Homo sapiens: one gene and its partner. The protein of the gene in region 2 interacts with the protein of the main gene of each other region in a biochemical or structural test. Each region holds a gene or a part of one and is shown on either strand. Other genes may lie near its edges.

Evidence for each region.
Region 1: the proteins of USP12 (region 2) and CDC73 form a complex in vitro, tested with the Homo sapiens proteins (one study listed by BioGRID).

The regions. Positions count from the first base shown.
Region 1 is NC_000001.11:193,125,031-193,132,068, reverse strand, and holds part of CDC73 (parafibromin), read right to left. Parts: intron 6,958-7,038; coding exon 6,852-6,957; intron 1,896-6,851; coding exon 1,826-1,895; intron 1-1,825.
Region 2 is NC_000013.11:27,065,633-27,070,826, forward strand, and holds the end of USP12 (ubiquitin carboxyl-terminal hydrolase 12), read right to left. Parts: intron 3,753-5,194; coding exon 3,651-3,752; 3' UTR 524-3,650; downstream 1-523. UniProt on the Homo sapiens protein: Deubiquitinating enzyme that plays various roles in the regulation of the immune response and inflammation.

The DNA.
Region 1 (7,038 bases), on a different chromosome or scaffold from region 2:
ATTACTCATTTATTCAGTTAAGAACCTACCATGCACCACTATTGTAAATGCTGGGTATTTAACAAGACAAACAACTGTCTGTCCCCTTAGGATTTACCTTCTAATGGGAAAGACAGACACTATGTACATAAACAGATATATAATTTCAGGTCAATGTATGAGATCTGGTGAAAAATAAATCAGGATGGCACTATATAAAAACCACAGAAGGAGGAAAGGAATACTATATTTTCGATAAGAGTGGTCAGAGAAGTCTTCTCTGATGGAACAACATTTGGAAAAACACTTGAGCACAGATCTAAATGAAATAGTAAGCAAGTGAGCCATGTGATAATGTAGAGAAAGACAACTCAAGATAGAAAGAGAAAGTGCAAAGGTGCTAAGATTAGCATAGCTAAAAGACCAAAAAGACTGACTGTTATGAGCAAAGGAAGAATGGTAGAAGATGGAGTCACAGAGATTTAGGCAGAGGCAAGATGACTGCCAGGGTAACAAGTATGAGTTTTATTCTAAGAGTGATGGGAAGCCACAGGTGAGTGACACAATCAAGTTTATATACTTTTTCAAAAGCAGGACACTCTATTGCTAAGACTACACTATAGGAAATAAAGAGTGGGGACCTGTGAGGAAGCTATACAATAATCTAAAAAGCAAGGATGAAATAGGGCAGGTAGAATGGTAAGAAGTTGTCATACTTTTAAAAAGAGAAAAAAACAACTTGTTGATAGAATGGATGTGAGATGTGACAAAGATGTCACCAAAGTTCTGGCCTAAGCAACTGCAGGAAGAGCGTCTCACTACCCCTTACTAAAGTGGGAACACTGAGAAAACAACAGACTTGTTTTTGTTCTGTGTGAGGGCAGAAGGGAAAGAGGGAATCAGGCATTCCATTTTCAGTGTTAAATTTCAGATGCCTATTCAACATTCAAGGAAACATGTTGACAGTAAATTTATAAATCTGGTGCCCTGAAAGAAATCAATGCTGAAAAAAACACTTGAAATTTCATCAGCATATATATGATATCTGAGCCATAAAACTGAAAGAGATCACCTAGAGAATACAGGTTAAAAGAAAAGATAAAAAAAAAGATCAAGTCTTGGAAACTTCAAGAATTAGAGGTCAGGTACAGAAGTAACCAAAATAAACTGAGAGGTGAACAACGAGTAGAAAGAGAACCAAGAGGCTGGTGTTCCAAATGCCAAATGAAGAAAGGCTTTCAAAAATGAGTGGTCAACAGTATCAAATGCTGTTGAGAGGTCAAGTATGGTACAAGAGACCAAAGGATGTAGCAATCCTTAAATCAGTTTTGACCTTACAAGGAGTGATTTTAGTGGGATGGTAAGGATGAAGGCCAGACTAGAGTGGCTTCAAGAAAGAAACAAAGGTAAAAAAGAAGCAATGATACCACACGAACTCTTGCAGAATATTTTACAGTATCAGGGAGGAGATAAATGAAGCAGTAGACAGTAGGAATGTGGGATCAAAAACATTTTTTAAACATGAAATCTTACTGTAGGTATTCTAAAAGGGAATGATCCAGAAGAAAGTAGAAAACTGATGATGTCAGAGAAACAACAATTTACGAAGACAAAGTCTTTGAGACTGTGAAAGGAGATGGAATCCACACACAAGGAAGGGGTGACTGGCCATAAGGGCAAAGACAGTGCATCCACTGTATAAGAAAAAGGTGAGCACATGGACAAAAATGAAGGTAGGTTAATTTTTTGGTGGAAATACAAATTCTCTTCCCTCTAATCATTATTTCATAGGGGAAAAAAGAAACAATGTCTGTTTAAGACTGGGAACAATTTAAAAAGTACTCACACGCTTCACCATTGAGATATCCAAGTAGATCTTTTCGATCAGGTCTTCTAACCACAGGAATATTTTCAGTCTAAAACCAAAATTTTAAATGAGATATGAAATGAATAACAATGATACACAACTTAATAAATATTAACATGTAATGTCTGAATTTTATTCCAACATATCTTGAAAAAACGTATTTTAAATCACATTTGTAAAAAATGACTAGGCTAAAAGAACCTAATAAAAATCCTGAAAATTTATTAAACATGTTAGTTACTTTTAATAATTTTCTTACAACTTGATATTAACATGTAATGTCTGAATTTTATTCCAATATATCTTGATACAATATATTTTAAATCACATTTGAACAAAATGACTAGGCTAAAAGAACCTAATAAAAATCCTGAAAATGTATTAAACATGTTACTTTTAATAATTTTCTTGGCTGGGCGCGGTGGCTCACACCTAGAATCCCAGCACTTTGGGAGGCTGAGGTGGGTGGATCACCTGAGGTCAGGAGTTAAAGACCAGCCTGGCCAACATGGCAACACCCCGTCTCTACTAAAAAGACAAAAATTAGCTGGGTGTGGTGAAGCATGCTTGTAATCCCAGCTGCTCAGGAAGCTGAGGCAGGAGAATCACTGGAACCCAGGAGGCGGAGACAGGCGTTTCAGTGAGCCGAGACTGCACCACTGCACTCCGGCCTGGGCAACATAGAGAGATTCCGTCTCTAAATAAATAAATAAATAAATAAATAAATAAATAAATTTCTTTTTGAAATTCCAGGAAGATATACAGAAAATAATCATTAGAAATAAAGCAATGACCAGGCACAGTGGCCCACACCTGTAATCCCAGCACTGCGGGAGGCCAAGGCGGGCGCATCCCTTGAGGTCATGAGTTCAAGACCAGCCTGGCCAACATGGTCAAACTCCATCTCTACTAAAAACACAAAAATTAGGCAGGGCGCAGTGGCTCACACCTGTAATCCCAGCACTTTGGGAGGTCGAGACGGGTGGATCATGAGGTCGGGAGTTCAAGACCAGCCTGAGCAAGATGGTAAAACCCCATCTCTACTAAAACTACAAAAATTAGCTAGGCGCGGTGACAGGCACCTGCAGTCCCTGCTACTCGGGAGGCTGAGGCAAGAGAATCGCTTGAACCTGGGCGGCAGAGGTTGCAGTAAGCCGAGATCACGCCACTGTACTCCAGCCTGGGTGACAGAGTGAGACACTGTCTCAAAAAAAAAAAAAAAAAAAAAATTAGCCGGGCGTGATGGCAGAAGCCTATAATCCCAGCTACTCAGGAGACTGAGGCGAGACCCAGTCTGAAACACAAACAAACAGTGCAAGAAAAATTGGTAGCTAACAGATTTCAGTTTAAATCCTTTGTCACTTTATATGTGTAACAATGAAGTAACAACAAGAACCTTTAGTATCTTTGGCCAATGACCTTATATTGAATACTTATTATAATTTACTGCACCAAACATTCTGCACTGACTCCTCAATGATTTAGATAAACTGTATTTAATCACTTAAAAATTAACCTTTTATTTTAAAAAGGTCAAGCTAAATTTTAGTTTCTCCTTATGAGTTTAAAAATTTGAGTGCAGAGTTTTTTTGTGCTTGTATTCTTTTAAACCAGCCTAGGCCAGGCATGGTGGTTCATGCCTGTAATCCTAACACTCTGGGAGGCCAAAGTGGGTGGATTGCTGGAGCCCAGGAGTTCGAGACCAGCCTGAGCAACATGGAAAAACTCCAACTCTACAAAAATATAAAAGTTAGCCAGGCATGGTGGCAAGCGCCTGCAGTCCCAGCTATACTCCCAGCTACTCAGGAGGCTGAAGGAGGAAGACAACTTGAGCCCGGGAGGGTAAGGCTGTGGCAAGCCAAGATCCTGCCACTGCACTCCAGCCTGGGTGACAGAGCAAGACTCTGTCTCAAAAAAAAATAAAAAATAAAAATAAACCAGTCTATATGGAATATCATAAACAGTTAAAAGATTTGAGTTAATTTTAAGTTACTGTTTCTAAGTCTAATAACTTACATCATCATTTGGTCACTACTGAGTTATGTACACATCACAATCCACTGAAAAAGATTACATCTACTCACACTAAAATAGGAACTAAGGATCAGGAATCTGTTTTCAGAGTGGTCTGCTCAGCCGGACGCAGTGGCTCACGCCTGTAATCCCAACACTTTGGGAGGTCGAGGCGGGCGGATCGCGAGGTCAGGAAATCAAGACCAACCTGGCTAACGTGGTGAACCCCCGTCTCTACTAAAAATACAAAAATTAGCCAGGCATGGTGGCGTGTGCCTGTAATTCTAGCTACTTGGGAGGCTGAGGCAGGAGAATCCCTTGAACCCAGGAGGCGGAGGTTGCAGTGAGCCGAGATCACGCCACTGCACTCAAAAAAAAAAAAAAAAAAAATGAGTGGTCTGCGCACAGGAAAGAGCAAATAACACAAAGTAATTAGGAGACAACAATCTCGAATTCATAGAATTTTGGAATTTTAGAATCCTACTCTTTCAATCTGGCAAATACTTATGAAAAATGAGTTAAATCTTATGCAACCAAGGGTCCCAAGGTCCACAGTAACAATTACAGCTATCAGTTATATGCACAACCATTTCCCAAAAACAGAATCTATAAATCTAAGCCAACTATCTGAATCTTTGTTACACTAAAATGAATATATCCAACAAAACACTGTAAGAACTACCTAATTTAGTTTTTAAAGATCTGAGTTAAAATAACCTTAAAGACGGAGCTGGTGCTATTTTTTTCCCCTTATTTTCCCAAGTAGTCCCACTCTAATTTTATTTTTTTAAATATGTAACATAAATATATATTTCTTACTCAGGAAAGCAGAAGCCTTATGGTTTAATACAAAGCCCACTAAGTGACGGGATACTTTCTCAATTGCTATAATCACACACACACACACACACACACACACATTTTTTTTTTTTCCCTGAGACAGAGTCTTTGCTCTATCACCCAGGATAGATGCATTGGTGTGATCATGGCTTACTGCAGCCTCAACCTCCTGGGCCCAAGTGATCCTCCCACCTCAGCCCCTTGAGTAGCCAGCTGGGAGTATAGGTGCACACTACCACGCCTGACTAATTTTTTTTATTTTTTGTTTTAACAAAGTTTCCCTATGTTGCCCAGGTTGGTCTTGAACTCCTGAGCTCAAGTGATCCTCCCACTTGAGCTCAGCCTCCCAAAGTGCTGGGACTACAGGCATGCACCACCACACCTGGCTTTTAGTTGCTTTAGACAACAAGTTATTGTTTGAAAGATACATAAGCCAGAAACCTTAACTATTTCTAGTTGGGAGGGAGGTTAGAGTTATAGAAGTTAAGTTTCACACAGCTTAATGTGATCCAGCAACGGTGTTAGGTAACTCAAAAAGCAGCTCCAGTGATGACAGACACAGTGATATTTTAAAAAATTGTTTTAAGAACTATAAGAAAAGTTTAAGAAGATTGTTTTAAGAACTATAAGAAATGGGAAAAAGTAGTTATTTATAAATACATTTCATACTTAATTTTAAGTGTATACTTGTAAGCAAAAGCAACAAATATTAAAAGCAGACATTTAATTATTTCAATTATATCTTCAAAAAATTTTATGTTCAACTCTACCAAAAATAATCTGAGGGAAAAGCTCATTTAAAAAAATTAAATATCTTTTAGGCCATTTTATGTGGGCATTATAGTACTTTTCCATGTCATACAGCTATCCTATCCAAATAACTCTGAATCTTATTTACTTATCAATTATAATATACTGCTATAATTTAGGTCTTAATGATACTTCCCTACAGATGAAGAATCTCATCATCATAGTTTATGAAATTAGTTCTTTTCAAGTTGTTTCCAAATATTTCCTCTGAGTAATAAATTTTCAAACACTGAGAAAGCAAGCAAAACTAAAAACAAATGAACTTCTCCAGAGTACTAAAACAGCTGCACAAAACTGATTAAGAAACAATTTTTTTAAATGTCTGCTAATCTTAATCCTTACAACCAAAAAAAGTTTTCTTGAGATTAAACTAGAGTTCTGAAGTAACAGGGTCCTTCCACAGGCTTACAAGTTTTTCTAAACATCTCTATAAATACTTTTAGCGTTTCGGGTTTTCTTTTTCTTGAGATGGCATCTCACTATGTTGCCCAGGCTGGTCTTGATCTCCTAGGCTCAAGCAACCCTACCGCCTTAGAGTCCCAAGTAGCTGGGATTACCAGCGTGCACTAAGAAGCCTGGCTCTATAAATCCCTTTAAAACTTCCTTTGTTATAAACATTACCCACACTTTACATGAAAAAATATCACAGATTAAAAAGTCTGTGTAAGTCACACAGTCACCTAATTTTGACTCTCCTGGAGACACTCATACAAACCTTTCATTCTTTTGATTTGAAACCCATGAGGGAAGCTATCCATTCCAAATGATACCTACTACCACGAAGCCAAAAAAAAAAAAAATGTGTTAATACAAAAATTAGCCCGGCATGGTGGGCCATGCCTATAGTCCCAGTTTCTCAGGAGACTGAGGTGGGAGGCTGGCTTGAGCCCGAGAAGTAGAGGGTACAGTAAGCCGAGATCACACCACTGCACTCCAGCTTAGGCAACAGAGCCAGATCCTATCTCAAAAAAAAAAAAAAAGTTTTAAAATGAATTATTGGCCAGGCACAGTGATTCATGCCAGTAATCCCAGCACTTCGGGAGGCCGAGGCAGGAGGATCCACTGAGGGTAGGAGTTCAAGACCAGCCTAGGCAACACAGCAAGACCCCCTCATCTTTAACAACAACAAAAAAAATTAGCCAGATACGGTGGCACAGGCCTGCAGTCCTGGCTACTTGAAGGCAGAGGTGGGAAGATCACTTGAGCCTAGGAGTTCGAGGCTGCAATGAGCTATGATCACACCACTGCACCCTAGCCCGGGCAACAAGGCCAGACCCTGTCTCTTAAATAAATAAAAATAAAACTGATAAATAGATAGATAAGTAAAATGAATTCTACTTACAGCTGCACGTCGGACATAAACAGGATGAGAAAGGTGCACGTTATTAAGTAGAAATAAAATGGAATCCAATGTGTAGTACTCTCTGGGTTGGCCTTCCTTTCCAGTCCTGAAATAATTAAGGCAAGATTTTTTTTACTGACAATTCTAATTCAACTCTTCAGGCTGGATTCATTTATATAAACAACTT
Region 2 (5,194 bases):
TCTGAAAGCCATCTAATACAAAGATCAGCCTTGAGATCAGAAGCACACTGGGAGAATGAAGGATGGGCTGAAAATAATGGCAACATAAATAACAACTCAAGTTACTCAATAATGGAACAGGCTTCCAGCACTCAAGTGCAGGTTGACTGACCACTTGTGAAAACAGATTTTACAGGAGCAATTACTACACAGGAAAGGAGGAGGAGCAGGAGAAACAGTGATCTTTAAGGTATTTTACCTATTTTACCCTCTAAGATTCTATGACTCTCAATGTTCAAATTTAAACTTTGAACTTTTCAGACATGCTATCACAGAAAGGTGACACAAGCTACTATGTGCTAAATAAATGCAGGCACATGTAGAATGTTGTTTTACACACATGCAATTCTGTTCTAGGGAAAATCTCTTTGGATACAGAAGTAGGAGCTTGGGCAAAAGCAGTAACACAGTTTCCAAAGTGTCTACTTCTAATCTGTAAATACATTTTAGGCAAAAAGGAAAAAACACACTTGAAACCCACAGGCACAAATAAACCAACTTTAATAGATATTATTTTGTATTTATATAGTGCCTTCTTCAAGAACCTTAAATGCTTTACAGACATTATCTCTAATTAATCCCCACAACAACCCTGTGAGGTAGGTATTACTCCCATTTTACAAGACAGGGAGACTGAAGCACAGAGAGGTTAAGTGACTTGCCCAAGGTCACACAGTTAAATTCACTGAAGAGCCAGGACATGAGCGCTTTAGCCTCCCAGCTCCCAGCCAAATACCTCATGATAGAATCTTTAATAAAAAGTGTTTTTAAAGAAAGTATCAAGAGTAGTTATGTTATGAAAATGAGGTCTTTCTACTGCCATCAAGGAAAGAAAAAACCCTATACTGATGGTTAGAGGCCCCAAGACCCACATAATACAACATTTCCCTCTTTCCCTGTTCCCAAGCCTCCTGGTTCCTGTCTTAAATAATCTTTTAAAGGTAAAATTTCCAAGACAGAAGCCATGTGACTTAAGAAGTGGGACTTAATTTAGAATATTTACTTTTAGTTACAATAATTTATAGAAATTTTTATTCCAATATACAAAATATGGGACAGCCATCCCAACAATCATGTACATAGTTACACGGCAATCAGCCACCACTTACAACTTACACCAGCCCCGCATTTTAATCACAGTCAACCAACATACAACCTCACGATGCTTTCTTCATGGGTCACTTTTCTTACTTACTATACCTGTATTTTTCCCCCAACCCTGACCCTATACGTTTTAAAAGTACATTTAGTTTCTGATAAACTTCAAAACATTTTACTTAGATCCAGCTGCATTAAGAAGAAAAAGTAAATGTAAAACTGTCACCCCACAATCCCTCCCCTGACAAATCATACTATGAAGTACGGTGTAGATGTGAACAAGTATGTGATTACCAGGAACTCAACACATACACTAGAACTTGCTTTAATATGAAATTTAACTTGGCTTTTACGGCATGTTTTTTTTTAATGCAAAAATGTAAAAACAAACACAACATAGTATTTCAATGCTGTACCTTTATGCAAATGACTTCATCTATCTTTCTTAAACATGTTGATATAGCTAATGTTAAAACTGACACAGCTTCACTTTCCTCTTTTTCTCTGTACCGAAAGCTGCAGAAATACAGCTTTAATTCCAAGACAATTTGGTTTAAGCCTTCAAAATAAAAAGAGTGCATCCACTTCCACTGCCCTGACTTTCCCCACACTGTTGATTGTGATTCTCTGTGGCATGTTGGTAGATCAGGCTGGCTTATATATAATTTGTACAAAACACCTCTAGCCAGGGTAAGGCTTTAGGAACTATCTTAAAAAGAAACTTGTCAAAATACTTTTTGATATTTTGTACAAATACTAAATATTATAATTTTCTCCCAGAACATCTGTTTAAGCAGCCCAATTAAGTGACTCTGTTAAAGGTCTGCTTATGGAAAAAATAGGTGAAGTCATTTCCTGAGCCAAAAGATACAGATAATAAATGTTAATAATAGCAGCAGACTAAAAAATTCCTTTTTGTTGTTTTCCATAGTCAACAGTTTTAGCAAAAGGACTTTAGAAAATGACAATTTTTTTTAAATTTACTGCCTGAAAAGAGTTTAATAAAGAACATCCAAGGCCTGATTGCTATTATTCTGAATATAATTTTCAATAATTTTCTGCAAGTTACATTTGGCTACTGTCAGACAACTTACTGATGCATGGAAAAACGTCCAAAAAAACTGCAATCGTTTACATATATTTTATGTTACATATATTACTTCTTAAAACCCCCAACAGAATGAAGTCTTAGCAAACACAGATTTTAATTTCTGAACACCCTTCCAGTAAGATTTGTAAAGGTGGGGGGAAGGGAAGGAAGGACTTGTCTTTTGTATTCCCGGTCTACTTGATTAAAATTTAATCTTTGAAGGGTTTGTTTAGCTCACTATCCAGGCTGCTAGGGTTATGATGAACATTATGACTTCTTTCCAGGGTAAAAAATGGCATCTGAAAATAACATAAATGCTATGACATGATTTTCCCAAGCATGATCTCAACTTGAAACATTAGAATACTTAAGAATTCTAAAGATTGGTATACCACCACTGCACCAGAATTTTTAATTATTCCAACAACTACAGGAATTTTTAAAATAGTTTTTTAATTTTATGAAATTAAAGCTGAAGAAAATAACTGATTTAGAAACCATAATAAAAGGACAAATATTTAGCCAGAGATATCAGTTCCTCCTGAAAAAGGATATTTATCTCCTCTCACTGCAGTTTTTCTCAAGGTATCTTAACTGATTTCAGATAGAAATTAAAATTCACCTTAAAAATAGAAACAAACAAAAGGACAACTTAAACTGACATTAACTAATAAAAATATGTTCAAATTTACTGACAGAATCATGGGCACTTCATATAATACTTAGACTCTACCAGTTTTAAGTAAAATAAATAAGGAAAAAATTATAATTACAAAGCCAGTCTTTCCCCTTGGGGAAACAAAAAGCCACTTTTGACCAATTGCTCCCTACATATACATATACTGTATATTATTATAAGCTTCTTCAGAGAAGCAAAACATCTTTGTCTTCCCGACACTGGATTATCTAGCATGTTAGTTTTTACATCAGGAAGGCAACTGCAAGTGTTGGGCCCAAAAGTATTTCTGGTTTACTCTTGAAAAGACCACTGAATATGCTTCTATACATACTGAACCAGGCAAATTTATGCAGTGTGTTCAACATCATCTCCTTATCAATACGGCACAGATTCCGATTCTTTCTACTGCACCCCCAAGGAATTCAAAGCATTATTGGTGCAATTAATAAAGAGAAAATGCGTGCCAATGACTGGAAGGCTGTTTTAAAAGAGGAGCTGGTATCTCTGATTTCACCTCCTTGTTGTATGGAACTGTACAGACAGCATGATACCTGAGCAAATAAATCAACTACCATGATCGGAAGGGCTTGTCAATCCATCGTCTTTGCTTTATCGTGTGCAAAGTGTGCTACTGCCCCCTGAGCTTCCTGCATTTCTCTTTTCTTGAAAAATCAGTGCTTGATCCTTTCCAAAATAACCAGAGAAGAAATGAGGCAGAAAGTGTCTCTTCATCACGGTTCCCTCTCAGTCCCGAGACTGATAGAAAAGGATGTAACCAGACTCAGAGTTCTTTGAGATATCTGATGTCAACCCGTAGAATTCTTCAATAGCTTGTGCATCTATTTTCTGTGAGGTAAAATGTAAACATTAGTACATAAATGAGCTCTGTACAGCCAGAATGGCTTAAATTTAAAAGACTGACAATACCAAGTATTTGGTGAAAATGTGGGGAAAATGGAACTCTCACACACAGCTGGCAGGGCACACCAAAAAAATGTTTATAAATACCTATCTTCTAAAGCTGAACATACAACTACCCTTTGATCCAGCAATTCTACTTCTAGGTACAGGATGAATTATATGAAACCACTAATAACTATTTTGGACCAACAAAATGGTAACTTCTAGGCTGGGCACACTGACTCACGCCTGTAATCCCAGTACTGTGGGAGGCCAAGGCGGGCAGATCACCTGGGGTCAGAAGTTCGAGACCAGCCTGACCAACGTGGAGAAACCCCATCTCTATTAAAAATACAAAATTAGCTAGGCGTGTTGGCGCATGCCTGTAATCCCAGCTACTCGGGAGGCTGAGGCAGGAGAATCGCTTGAACCCAGGAGGTGGAGGTGGTGGTGAGCCGAGATCGCACCCTTGCACTCCAGCCTAGGTAACAAGACTGTCTCCCAAAACAACAAAAAGGCAACTTCTAGTGGTCCAACCTAACATATATCCAAGAAAAATGAGTGTATACGTCCAGCAAAAGGCTTATAAAAGATGACCAATGCATTTTAATTCACAATAGTCATTAACTGACAAAAAGTCAAATTTCTAACTTGGTATATTCATACAGTAGAAAATGACAAAGCAGTGAAAAAGAACTACTATTACCGCAGGCAACAAGAATGCATCTCACAAATATATCAATGAGTGAATAAAGTCTGACACAAAAGAAATCATGCTATGTGAGTCCATTTATATTCAAGCCTAGGCAAAATTAATCATAATGATAGAAGTCCAAATAGCAGGCTCCAGGAGGGTAGAGGTGAGGAAAGCTGTAAGTTCTGACCAGAAGGAGGAACAAGGGGGCCTGCTGCGGTGTTGAAAATGAATTGTATCTTGACCTGGATGGTAGTTACAAATGTGAGTGTGTGAGTATGGCCATGTGTGTGTGACATGGGGGGACACATGTATAAAAATTCATCAAATTCAGATTTGTATACTTTACTGTATGTATGTTACATGGCTTAATTTTTTTTTTTTAAAGCCAGGTCTGTTGTTGAAAGCTTTCCCTTGTTTTATTCTTTTTTTTTTTTTTGAGACGGAGTTCACTCTTATTGCCCAGGCTGGAGTGCAATGGCACGATCTCGGCTCACCACAACCTCCGCCTCCCGGGTTCAAGCGCTTCTCCTGCCTCAGCCTCCCGAGTAGCTGGGATTACAGGCATGCGCCACCATGCCCGGCTAATTTTGTATTTTTAGGAGAGACAGGGTTTCTCCATATTGGTCAGGCTGGTCTCAAACTCCCGACCTCAGGTGATCCGCCCGCCTCAGCCTCCCCAAGTGCTGGGATT